3 linked regions of the Homo sapiens genome follow. The protein of the gene in region 3 interacts with the protein of the main gene of each other region in a biochemical or structural test. Each region holds a gene or a part of one and is shown on either strand. Other genes may lie near its edges. The genes, in order: HELLS, DCAF8 and WDR76.

The links.
Region 1: the proteins of WDR76 (region 3) and HELLS form a complex in vitro, tested with the Homo sapiens proteins (one study listed by BioGRID).
Region 2: the proteins of WDR76 (region 3) and DCAF8 form a complex in vitro, tested with the Homo sapiens proteins (one study listed by BioGRID).

What each region holds. Positions count from the first base shown.
Region 1 is NC_000010.11:94,543,927-94,547,674, forward strand, and holds the start of HELLS (lymphoid-specific helicase), read left to right. Parts: upstream 1-1,861; 5' UTR 1,862-1,995; coding exon 1,996-2,026; intron 2,027-2,450; coding exon 2,451-2,572; intron 2,573-3,748. UniProt on the Homo sapiens protein: Plays an essential role in normal development and survival. Involved in regulation of the expansion or survival of lymphoid cells. Required for de novo or maintenance DNA methylation. May control silencing of the imprinted CDKN1C gene through DNA methylation.
Region 2 is NC_000001.11:160,260,512-160,264,259, reverse strand, and holds the start of DCAF8 (DDB1- and CUL4-associated factor 8), read left to right. Parts: upstream 1-1,710; 5' UTR 1,711-1,811; exon of another isoform or gene 1,812-2,143; intron 2,144-2,337; exon of another isoform or gene 2,338-2,511; intron 2,512-2,901; 5' UTR 2,902-2,975; intron 2,976-3,748. UniProt on the Homo sapiens protein: May function as a substrate receptor for CUL4-DDB1 E3 ubiquitin-protein ligase complex.
Region 3 is NC_000015.10:43,850,936-43,854,683, forward strand, and holds part of WDR76 (WD repeat-containing protein 76), read left to right. Parts: intron 1-151; coding exon 152-310; intron 311-3,748. UniProt on the Homo sapiens protein: Specifically binds 5-hydroxymethylcytosine (5hmC), suggesting that it acts as a specific reader of 5hmC.

The sequences.
Region 1 (3,748 bases), on a different chromosome or scaffold from region 3:
TTTTAGGCTACCATTACCTTCTTCCTTATCAAGTTGCTTATTTACTTGTCAGGGCTAGCTAGGTTCCTGGAATTTCCCTTGAAGCAACTCAAGATTTCCCTTTATTCCCATGGTTTTTTTTTTTTTTTTTTTTTTTTTTTTTTTTGAGACAAAGTGTAGCTTTATCACCCAGGCTGGAGTGCAGTGTTACAATCTCGGCTCACTGCAGCCTTGACCACCTGGGATCAAGTGATTCTCCCACCTCAGCCTCCCAAGTACTAGGACCACAGGCATGTGCCACCACAGCCGGCTAATTTTGGAAATGTTTGTAGGGGCCAGGCACAATGTGTCACGCCTGCACTCTCAGCACTTCCGGAGGCCGAGTTGGGAGGATCCCTTGAACCTAGGAGTTCGAGACCAGTCTAGATAACATGGCGAAAAACCGTCTCTACCAAAAAACAAAAACACACAAAAACCCCAAACCAACAAAAATTAGCCTGGAATGGGCTAATGTCCGACACTAAAATGTCCGGGCGTGGTGGCACGCACCTGTAGTCTCAGCTACTTGCTAGGCTGAGGTGGGAGGATCAACTGAGCCCAGGAGGTGGAGATTGCAGTGAGCAGAGATCGTGCCATTGCACTCCTGCCTGGACGACAGAGTGAGACCCTATCTTAATAAAATAAAATATAGAGACTAGGTTTCGTTTCTATTTTTTATGAGACGGAGTCTCTCCCTGTTGCCCAGGCTGGAGTGCAATGGCGCGATCTCTGCTCACTGCAACCTCTGCCGCCCAGGTTCAGGCGATTCTCCTGCCTCAGCCTCCCGAGTAGCTGGGACTACAGGCGCCTGCCACCGTGCCCGGCTGTTTTGTATTTTTAGTAGAGACAGGGTTTCACCATCTTGGCCAGGCTGGTCTTGAACTCCTGACCTCGTGATCCACCCGCCTTGGGCTCCGAAAGTGCTGGGATTACAGGCGTGAGTCACCGCACCCGGCTTGTAAACTCTTAAATTTTGTATAGACACAATCATACAAGTTGTGGGAGTCAAAATGAAGGAAACGGGTGGTTACATGGTAGGTATATTTAATGCCATACATCTTAAGAAATTGGAGGTGGGAAAGGGAGCCCTGGAGAGGGAGACAAAGGAAATAGTTGAAAAGGAATGCAAACAAGAAAAGGAGGAATTGAAAGCTGAAGTGAAAACCAGGGACAAGAAAAGCTCCGCTCCTTCCTTCACTGCCCACTCGAATGAATGAATCCTGTTTGGTTTCCTGAATCTTCCTTCTGCTGGCCACTCCGCTTGGTCCATCACTTCTTTCAGCTTGCCCTTATCCTAAACAGCTTTCTTTAACCCAGTCATAATCTTAATTTCCTGTTCCTTCTCTCTCCCGTCCCACCCACAAAAAAGCCCTCCTCTTTGTCATTTTGGGGGATTTTTCACTTAAGATGTGAGCCGCGCGCTGCGGGTGCGGCGAGGCTGGCCCTATAAAAATGTTTCTGTTTCTGACATCCTCGTGCAGATACGCAGACGTCTCTACCTACAGGATCATGGGCTAGCGGGTGCTCAATCACAGCAGCCAGCGTTGGAAGGCGCCTTGCAAAGTATTAACAGCACTATCAAACTTTAATTGCGTAGTTCGGAACCAGATATGTGAGGAAACTGGGTTCTCCACGATCGGCCACCTCGCCCAATCTCACAGGATAGTTACAGGCTGAGTTCGGCAGCGGGACCCAGTTTCCTCCTGAGAGAGGTCCAGGTAAAGGTTTACGGTTGCCACAGGTCAGTCCTGACGAAAACCGCAAGCTGCGCCAAATCTCGCGCAGCGGGGCGGGAGGGCGGGTGGGGAATGTAAGGTATCGCGAGATGACAGGATTTTCCCGCGAAGGAGAAGCGCGCTTTTTTCCCTGGCGGGGGATTTGGCTAGAAGGCTGGGCCGGCAGCGGTTGTGAGGAGTTAGCTCGCGGCATTGCAGGCTCTGAGAGGAGGGGACCCGGTTCCCGGGTGAGTGTCCAGGCATGCCAGCGGAACGGCCCGCGGGCAGCGGCGGTGAGTGAGGAAAACCTTTTGGGCGCGGGTGGCAGCCTGCGGGGCTGAGGTGGGCAAGCATGGAGGCTGCGGCGGAGTTTCGGGGAGGGAGCCGACCCCGGGCAGGGACTGAGGAGGAAAGGAGGGTTGGGAAACTGCAACGGTGAGTGGAGGACACCCCGGAATCGCACGTATTAGCATGCCGGTGAAGATTTCACATAGGCAACTGCATTTTCCCGAGCATCCCGAGTTGTAAACTGTGGTCCAGGCGACTTGTAGACATTGTGAAGACTTACGGTGTCTTCTGAGAGGTGATGCTGGCGTCCCCTCGGTCTTCAGCTTTTGCTCCAGTGCATCTCGGGTGGGAGAAAGGCTGTTTCTTGTTGGAGTTGAGTAGTTGGTAATTTTTTTAAAACTGCAATTTGAAAGCTTTCTCCCCCGTCAGGCTCGGAGGCTCCAGCAATGGTTGAACAACTGGACACTGCTGTGATTACCCCGGCCATGCTAGAAGAGGAAGAACAGCTTGAAGCTGCTGGACTAGAGAGAGAGCGGAAGATGCTGGAAAAGGTAATTTAGGCATCAGGTTCGTCGTCGTGAAAGCCTGTGGTAACCTCGGCTTTAACCCGGAGGTGTGGTTTGTGTTCTTTGCTTTCCTATTTAGTGGGCTTTTTAATAACTGAAAGAAAACAGCTTTATTACTTGTCTTTTTTGTATGTTTACAGATATTGCCTTTGAGAATCCTTTCGCAAGTGCTTTGAATGGTGTGTTTCTATGAGATGTAGTCTTGGTAGTCCCATCACTTTTAAATGAGCATTTCAGATTGCTTGTTTAGCCATGAAAAGTCTTTCAAAGTCCATAGTGAGTTTTTTCGTTTGTCATCCTTATTTCCTTTAAAAATTACCTTAAATGTATGTCTCATGGCAAACAGGAATCGCTAAAACCTGCAGAAGTAATGTACTAGACTGAGGGCAGGAGAAGTTAGCATCAATCAAAGGCTGGGCTGGAATCCAAGTCTAATGATTTCCTTATACTGTAGTGCTGTTTTCCACCTAAGTGATCAACTTGCTGTTTGTTTTTCTTTTGGTTTCATGGCCTGTGTATTGCTACATAAGATTCTTTAGCTAAAAATGTGCCGTACTTTTTCAATGACAAGTTGCTGTAGTTTTCTTGTAGAGAGCATTTTGTAAGTTACTAAAAACAGTTTTTAACCTGAAAAATTCTTGTTTATTCTAAAGCCCCACCCTGCTGCTTGATTCATATGCAAGAAAAAGAATGATCGTTGACTCTTAAGTACTGCCTAGTACGTGGTTTTCTTGTGCTTTATTAATTTATTAAACTCTACCGATATTATGATATAGGTTATTTTTTGTTATTTTCATTTACAAATGAAGAAACTGAGGGAGAAGGGCACATAGTAAGTGTTGAAGTCAAATTTCAACTCAGGCTGCCTGCAGAATTTCTGTCCTTAATAATAGTGAATTAACTCATGATTATAAAACTACTTAAGTTGGAAAATAATGCATTCCAAAAACGAGTAATGAGGCCGTTGGTTCCCTGTTATGTCAACAATAATTTTTTTGTCAGCATTGTTAATACTTCTTGAACATTTATTAGGAGTCATGCATTGTTTTGAATGCTTTATATGTATTTACTCATTGAATCCTCAACTATTCTGTAAAGTAGATGTTCATTATTACTATTACTGCTATTAAACTTACTAGTTTAATTACTAGTATAAACAAT
Region 2 (3,748 bases), on a different chromosome or scaffold from region 3:
ATTCAATAGTTGTTGACTGAATGAATGAAAGAATGAATAGGACGGTGGGGCATTAAATAGCTACTTTGTGCTGTAGCCCTCTTCTAGGTGTTGAGATTACAAAGATGATAAAAACACAGTCCTTGCCCTCAAGAATTTATATTCTAGTAGTATAGCTGGATCACAAACATAATTTTAGATTAAATGTTATAGGTAAAAAATGTTATTAAAAAAACAGTGCAGAGTAAGGGGATAGAGGAGGATGACATGAGGTTCCATTTTAGTTACAATAGTCAAGAGCTGCCTGTGTTAGGAAGTAGGATTTCAATAGACACCTCAAGTCTAGTAAATATCTAGTAGATGGACATTCCAAGAAAAGGAAAAAAACCCTAGGGCTGGGACATGCTTTGACTGGAGTGACAGTAAGGCTAGTGAGGCTAGAGCAGAGCTAGGCAGTGTGGGAGGAGATGAATCAGATAAATAGGCAGGTGCTAGATCAGATCATGTAGGGTCCTCCTTAGAGGCAATTCATTTTTTGATGGCCTCTAAGGCTATCATACTTTTGACTTTTATTATGTGATGGGAATTGGAGGTTTTGAGCAGGGTGGGGACTGGGGAAATAATACGACATTACTTTTTTTTTGAGACGGAGTCTCATTCCATTGCCCAGCCTGGAGTGCAGTGGTGCGATCTCAGCTCACTGCAACCTCCGCCTCCGGGTTCAAGCAATTCTCCTGCCTCAGCCTCCCAAGTAGCTGGGATTGCAGGCGCGCTCCACCATGCCGGGTAATTTTTTTTTTTTTTTGTATTTTTCGTAGAGACGGGTTTCACCATGTTGGCCTGGTTTCAAACGAGTTTCGAACTCCTGACCTCAAGTGATCCGCCCACATCCGCCTCCCAAAGTGCTAGGATTACAGGCATGAGCCACCGCGCCCGGCCAGACCTTACATTTTTAAAAAGCACTCTGGCTGCCTTATGTTTAACTGTAATGGCAATAATGGAAGTAGACAAACGAGGTAAGTTTCTATTGCGGTAGTCTTAAGTAATATGTAATGACTTGGAATAGGAGAGTAGCGGTAGGGGAGGTGAGAAAGGGTCAGATTTTTGCACCCTGGGCTTCTGGTAAGAAAAAAAAAAAAAATACCCCAGCCTGGCAGCTGGGAGTAATCCTCTGCAGGGTTACTGTAGGTGTCATAACGAAACAGAGTACAAAAGTCACCCCACATCACCCGGCCCACTCTTGGGAACCTTTACCCACACCACCTCTCTTCAGAAAAGAGCTTCTGGAATAGCTACACCTCAAGCTACTGAGCCCCTTCTTTAAAAATACGTAAATGGGGACTCTCAGGGGAAAATGGGCCTCGATAGTATAGAAACCACTTAAGGAAACAAAGCCCTGAAAGGAAACGGGGATTTTCAGAAGAAATCCTTGTGGCAATCATTGCTCGTTCCAGTGTTCAAAAACGGCAAAACTGGCCATCATCCAGGAAGTGGCCTGCCAATCCGCTGGAAATTTAGTTTATTTCTATCACAACTCTGGGTAGCCCCTAACTCGCATTTGTTTAGAGTATCACAAGATAAGCAAGCCCGAAGAAACTACAAAAACAACTTTGCCTCTTCGGTAATGCGCAGGCGCCTCTCGCTCTGTTTTCCGTTGGCCTTAAGCCCCGCCCCTTGTGCGTCCTTCGAGGAGGGTTGCGAGCCGTGAGCTCGCGCGACCACTCTTCCCTCAGTCTTCTCGAGCACATCGTCGCAAACGGGGCCGGAAAGCGTGGCAGCGCAGGCGCAAGCGCAGAGAGCGGAGGCGGTGGTGGTGGCGGCCGCTGGCCAGTGTAAGATGGCGGCGGCGTTGGTGGTGGCAGTGGACGGGGCGGCTGGGCCTGGAACAGTCGGAGCAGCCGCTAGCAGAAGGATGACCCAAGACGGGAAGCGGGCTGCTGAGCCTCGCCGATTCCCGTGCTTGTAACTGCCCCAGCCGGACACCCCCCCTCCCTTGACCTACCCGGTCTGTGTCTCGTTCCGGCTCGGCCTGCGCCCCCCCTCGCTTCCCAGCCGGTTTCCCCTAAGGATGGGCCTGACCCGTATCCCAAGCTCTTAGCGCTCAGGTCTTTTCCTTCCGCCGACCCGAAGTCATCGCTGGGAGTACTGGTTGCCCTTTCCTCAGGTCAGCCCTGGTGTTGCCCCCAAGAGCCAGCCGCACAGTTCACAGGGACGCCTTGCTTCGTTGGGTGACCCATGTGTGCGCTCCTATTTCTCCCCTTAGATTGAGGGACACGGCTCGCCCTGCGTCTCCCCGTCACCTCAGGGCCACCGCGCAATGTGTCCCCCTCCCCCATCCCAAGTTCCCAGGCCCAGCACCTTGTACGGAAGGCGGAGGTCCAAGAATTCCGGAGTCGGTTGTTGTCTTGTGGTCTTGTACCCTTTGTAATATAATTATCTTAGTTTACCTCCTCTAACTCCCAAATCTTTTAGGATATCTTAGAACGGTCCCATTTGGTCCCTGTTAGTTGGAAAGCATCTGGTGGCTTGAATTTCTGACTCATGATTGTTACTGGAGTCTCTGTAAACAAACCGGCACTAGCGCTATCACATTCTCTCCGGGATTTCCCCCCCTGCTCTGTGGCTTCTTGTTGAGAGGTTGTTTGGTTATGGTTTAGCGTTGAAAAGATTCAGGTTATCCTTTTAAATGACTTTACGTTTTAGTGGAGCTGGGAGATTACTTGCCTGGCTTCTAATCTTCATGTTGGTTCATTTTATTTCCATATGTGTGTGGGTTATTTGTTCAGTAATTAGAATTAGATAAAGTATTCTGCTTTTAAGTAGTTTTGAGAAGGCCTAAAAATACTAAAGTGTATTCATAAATATTTTTATTATGTTCAGTAGAAGACACACCTTTGCCATGTAAATTTTAACTTTTCTCAGTCCTTCAGTGAATCTACAGACCTATTTTCTCAGGAGCTCAGCCTGGCCTTACTTCAGTGATAAAAGGAGGAAAGGTGAGTGGGAGTTGGAGGCATTAAAATTCTTGAGTTCAAGACAGACTGCGCTGATGCTCAACTGCTGACCACTAAAGTCATAAAATTCCTACCAGTTTCCCAAAGAGCTTGAGTGTTGTTCTTGGCTTTGTTCCAGCTCTGGTTGAATTACTTTTACAAGTTTAATTGTCTGTGGGCTTCTTGTCTTTCTGTCCTAAACTATTGCTGTGTATCTCCAAATGACTTAAGCCTAGAAGTGAATGTGTGCCCCCTGCCCCATGTCTTCTTTTCTTCTTTATTCATTTTCCTTGTATTTTGTCTTTGTGTCGATCATATTTTTTACGTTGTTAAAAACTGGAACTTAGTTTGCCTGAGTTCTGTTCATCCTGTTGTCAAATCAGGTCTCTTCCCCTCTCACAGCTTCGGGTTGTCATCCCTTGGTATTTAGAGGAGAATATTTAGCTGCTTGTGACTAAAAGCTGGGGAGTGATGAGTGATGCTGCCTTTAGTTGGTGTCTGAGTCCAGTCTATTTCAGAATTCCGACTTTTTAGGATATAGTGGGAAATTTTTTGTAAAAAAAAAAAAAAAATAGTGGCTGCTCTTTCTTTTGTAGCTGGTCTGAAGAATTCTTGGTTAGCAGAAGAAACATCCTGGGCATTCAGCAGCATGGGTTGGTGCCAAAAAGGGAGTCAGAACATACTTATAAATGCAGTTTTCGTGAGGCTTTCAGGTTTCTGGTAGCAGAGACTAGAGGCTCATGGCATGTGACAGAAAAGCTAAGTGACTGGAAGGT
Region 3 (3,748 bases):
ACTTTGTGAAGGGGAGAGTGGTTACAATTATAGACTAAGAAAAGACTGAATATAATCCAGTGTAAATTCTTTAATGACATAATAGCATAGCAAAAATCACTATTTTTCACTAGTTTTTTTCTCTCTCCCCTTTCCCGCAACTCTCTTCCAGACCCAGCAACCTAAAGAAGATGGAGTTTATGTTTTTCATCCCCATAGTCAGCCAGTTAGCTGTCTTTACTTCTCACCCGCCAATCCGGCCCACATACTGTCACTGAGCTATGATGGCACGTTACGCTGTGGGGATTTTTCCAGGGCTATTTTTGAAGAGGTAAATGTTAATGTGTTTACATGCTGACTTCAGATGATATTCTAGATTCTTCGAAATGCCACATGAATAATTATTATACCAATTGGGAGAAGTGGTATAGCAGAAGGACTTTGAGAACTACGCTGCCTAAGTTCAAATCCCAGATCATCTGTTACTAGTTGTATGACCTTGACAAGTTGCTTAACCTTGTTGTGCCTCACTTTCCTTAGCTGTGAAATGGGATTTAACAGGACTGACCTTACAGGGTTGTCATGAGAATTTAATGAGCTTATGCAGATAAAGTACTTAGAAGAGAGCCTGGCACATAGTATGTGTTTGCGCTTGTTAAATTTCTTTTTTTTTTCTCTCCCAAAGCTTTTAACTAAAATAACTTACTCTTCTGTTTTTAGGCATAAGACTTGTATTTAGCTGGGTGTGGTGGCTCATGCTTGTAATCTCAGCACTTTGGGAAGCCAAGGTGGGAGACTCACTTCAGGCCAGGAGTTCCAGACCAGCCTGGGCAACATGGCGAGACCTTGTCTCTACAGAAAATAAAAAATATTAGCTGAGCTTGGTGGTGTGTGCCTGTAGTCTCAGCTACTCAGGAGGCTGAGGTGGGAGAATCACTTGAGCCCAGGAGTTCAAGATCAGCCTGGGCAACATAGTAAGACCTTGTCTCTAAAAAAAATTAGCTTGGTGTGGTGGCATGTGCCTGTAGTCACAGCTACTCAGGAGGCTGAGGTGTGAGGATTGCTTGAGCCCAGGAGATTGAGGCTGTAGTAAAGCCGTGATCACATACATCATTGCACTTCAGCCTGGGTGACAGAGTGAGACCCTCTCTCAAAATAAGACATCTTCTACTTAATGTTTAAAACAAACATATCATTTGAAATGAACTTTCAGATTTGCTTAACTGTATCAGATTGCCTCAATAAGATAAGTCTTATAAGTTGAACTTTTTTATTTTATTTTTTTTGAGACGGAGTTTTACTCTCGTCACCTAGGCTGGAGTGCAGTGGCGAGATCTCGGCTCACTGCAACTTCTGCCTCCCAGGTTCAAGCAATTCTTCTGCCTCAGCCTCCTGAGTAGCAGGGATTACAGGCACCCATCATCACGCCCGGGTAATTTGTTGTTGTTGTTGTTGTCGTCGTTGTTGTTGTTGTAGAGATGGAGTCTCACTCTGTCGCCCAGGCTGGAGTGCAGTGGTGCGATCTTGGCTCACTGCAAGCTCCGCCTCCCAGGTTCAAGTGATTCTCCTGTCTCAGCCTCCTGAGTAGCTGGGACTACAGGCGCATGCCACCATGCCAAGCTAATTTTTGTATTTTTAGTAGGGACGGGGTTTCACCATGTTGACCAGGCTGGTCTCGAACTCCTGACCTTGTAATCCACCTGCCTCAGCCTCCCAAAGTGCTGGGATTACAGCGTGAGCCACTGTGTGTGGTCAGATTTGCCTCTTCTGGACATTTCATATAAATGAAATCATACAATTTGTGGTCTTTTGTGACTGGTTTCTTTAACAAAATGTATTCAAAGTTCATCCATGTTGTAGCCGTGTATCAGTACTTCATTCCTTTTTATGGCTGCATAATATGCCATTGTATGGGTATTCCACATTTTATTCATCTGTTCATCAGTTGATGAACATTTGTGTTTCTATTCTTTCTTTATATATTTATTTTTGAAACAGAGTCTCGCTCTTGTTGCCCAGGCTGCAGTGCAGCAGTGCAATCTTGGCTCACTGCAACTTCCACCTCCCGGGTTCAAGCAATTCTCCTGCCTCATCCTCCTGAGTAGCTGGGATTACAGGCACGTGCCACCACACCTGGCTAATTTTTGTATTTTTAGTAGAGACAGGGTTTCCCCATGTTGGCCAGGCTGGTCTTGAACTCCTGACCTCAGGTGATCCACCCACCTTGGCCTCCCAAAGTCTTGGGATTACAGGTGTGAGCCACCACGCCTGGCCTTACTTATTTTTATTTTTTGAGATGGGGGTCTCACTCTGTCACTCCAGCTGGAGTGAAGTGGCTTGATCTCGGCTCACCGCAGCCTCTGCCTCCCAGGCTCACGTGATCCTCCCACCTAAGCCTCCTGAGTAGCTGGAACTATAGTCATGTGTCACCATGCTTGGCTAATTTTTGTATTTTTAGTAGAGACGGTGTTTTGCCATGTTGCCCAGGCTGGTCTCAAACTCCTGAGCTCAAGTGATCTGCCCACCTTGGCCTTCCAAAGTGCTGGTATTACAGGCATGAGCCACCGCGCCTGGCTGTAACTTACATTTCAATAAGCTTGACTTTAAAACAATAGGTGGAGAACTCCTATAGCTTAATTAAAAAAGCTAACCCAATTAAAAAATGGGCAAAGGATCTGAATAAACATTTCTTTAAAGAAACACAAATGGCACCGGGTGCGGTGGCTCACCCCTGTAATCCCAGAACTTTGGGAGGCTGAGGCGGGTGGATCACCTGAGGTCAGGAATTTGAGACCAGCCTGGCCAACATGGTGAAACCCCATCTCTACTAAAAATACAAAAATTAGCCAGGCGCGGTGGCAGGCACCTGTAGTCCCAGCTACTGGGGACGCTGAGGCAGGAGAATCGCTTGAACCCGGGAGGTGGAGTTTGCAGTGAGGTGAGATTGCACCACTGCACTCCAGCCTGGGCGACAGAGCGAGACTGTCTCAAAAAAAAAAAACAAAAAAAAACAAAAAAACCCCACAAATGGCAAATAAGCACATGAAAAGATTCTAAGCATCATTATTCATTAGGGAAATGCAAATCACAATGAGATACCCCTTTACACTCACTAGGATAACGATACTTGCCAGTAATAAGTGTTGACAATGATGTGGAAAAATTGAAACCCTCATATTTTGAGAATTGGTATGTGAAATGGTAAAGTTGGTTGGGGAAAGTTTGACAGTTCCTTAAATGTTAAACAGAGTTACCATATGACCTAGCAATATCCCTCCTAGGTATACACCCAAGAGAAATGAAAGCACATGTCCACACAAAAACTTGTACGGGAATGTTCATACAAGCATTATTTGCAATAATACAAAGAATAGGTTGGGCATGGTAGCTCACACCTGTAATCTCAGCACTGACAGAGGCCGAGGAGGGTGGATCACTAGAGCTCAGGAGTTCAAGACCAGCCTGGCCAACATAGTGAAACCGCACCTCTAAAAGAATACAAAAATTAGCTGGGCGTGGTAGCATGCGCCTGTGGTCCCAGCTACTTGGGAGGCCTGAGGCATGAGAATCACTTGAACCTGGAAGGGTGAGGCTCCAGTAAGCCGAGATTGCATCACTGCGCTCCAGTCTGGGTGACAGAGGGAGACTCTCAAAAAAAGTTACATATGGTACAATTTACCACTTTAGGTATATAATTCTCTGAGTTTTGGTGAATTGTGTACACATGTGTAACTATCGTAATCAAGATATAGAGCTGGGCGCAGTGGCT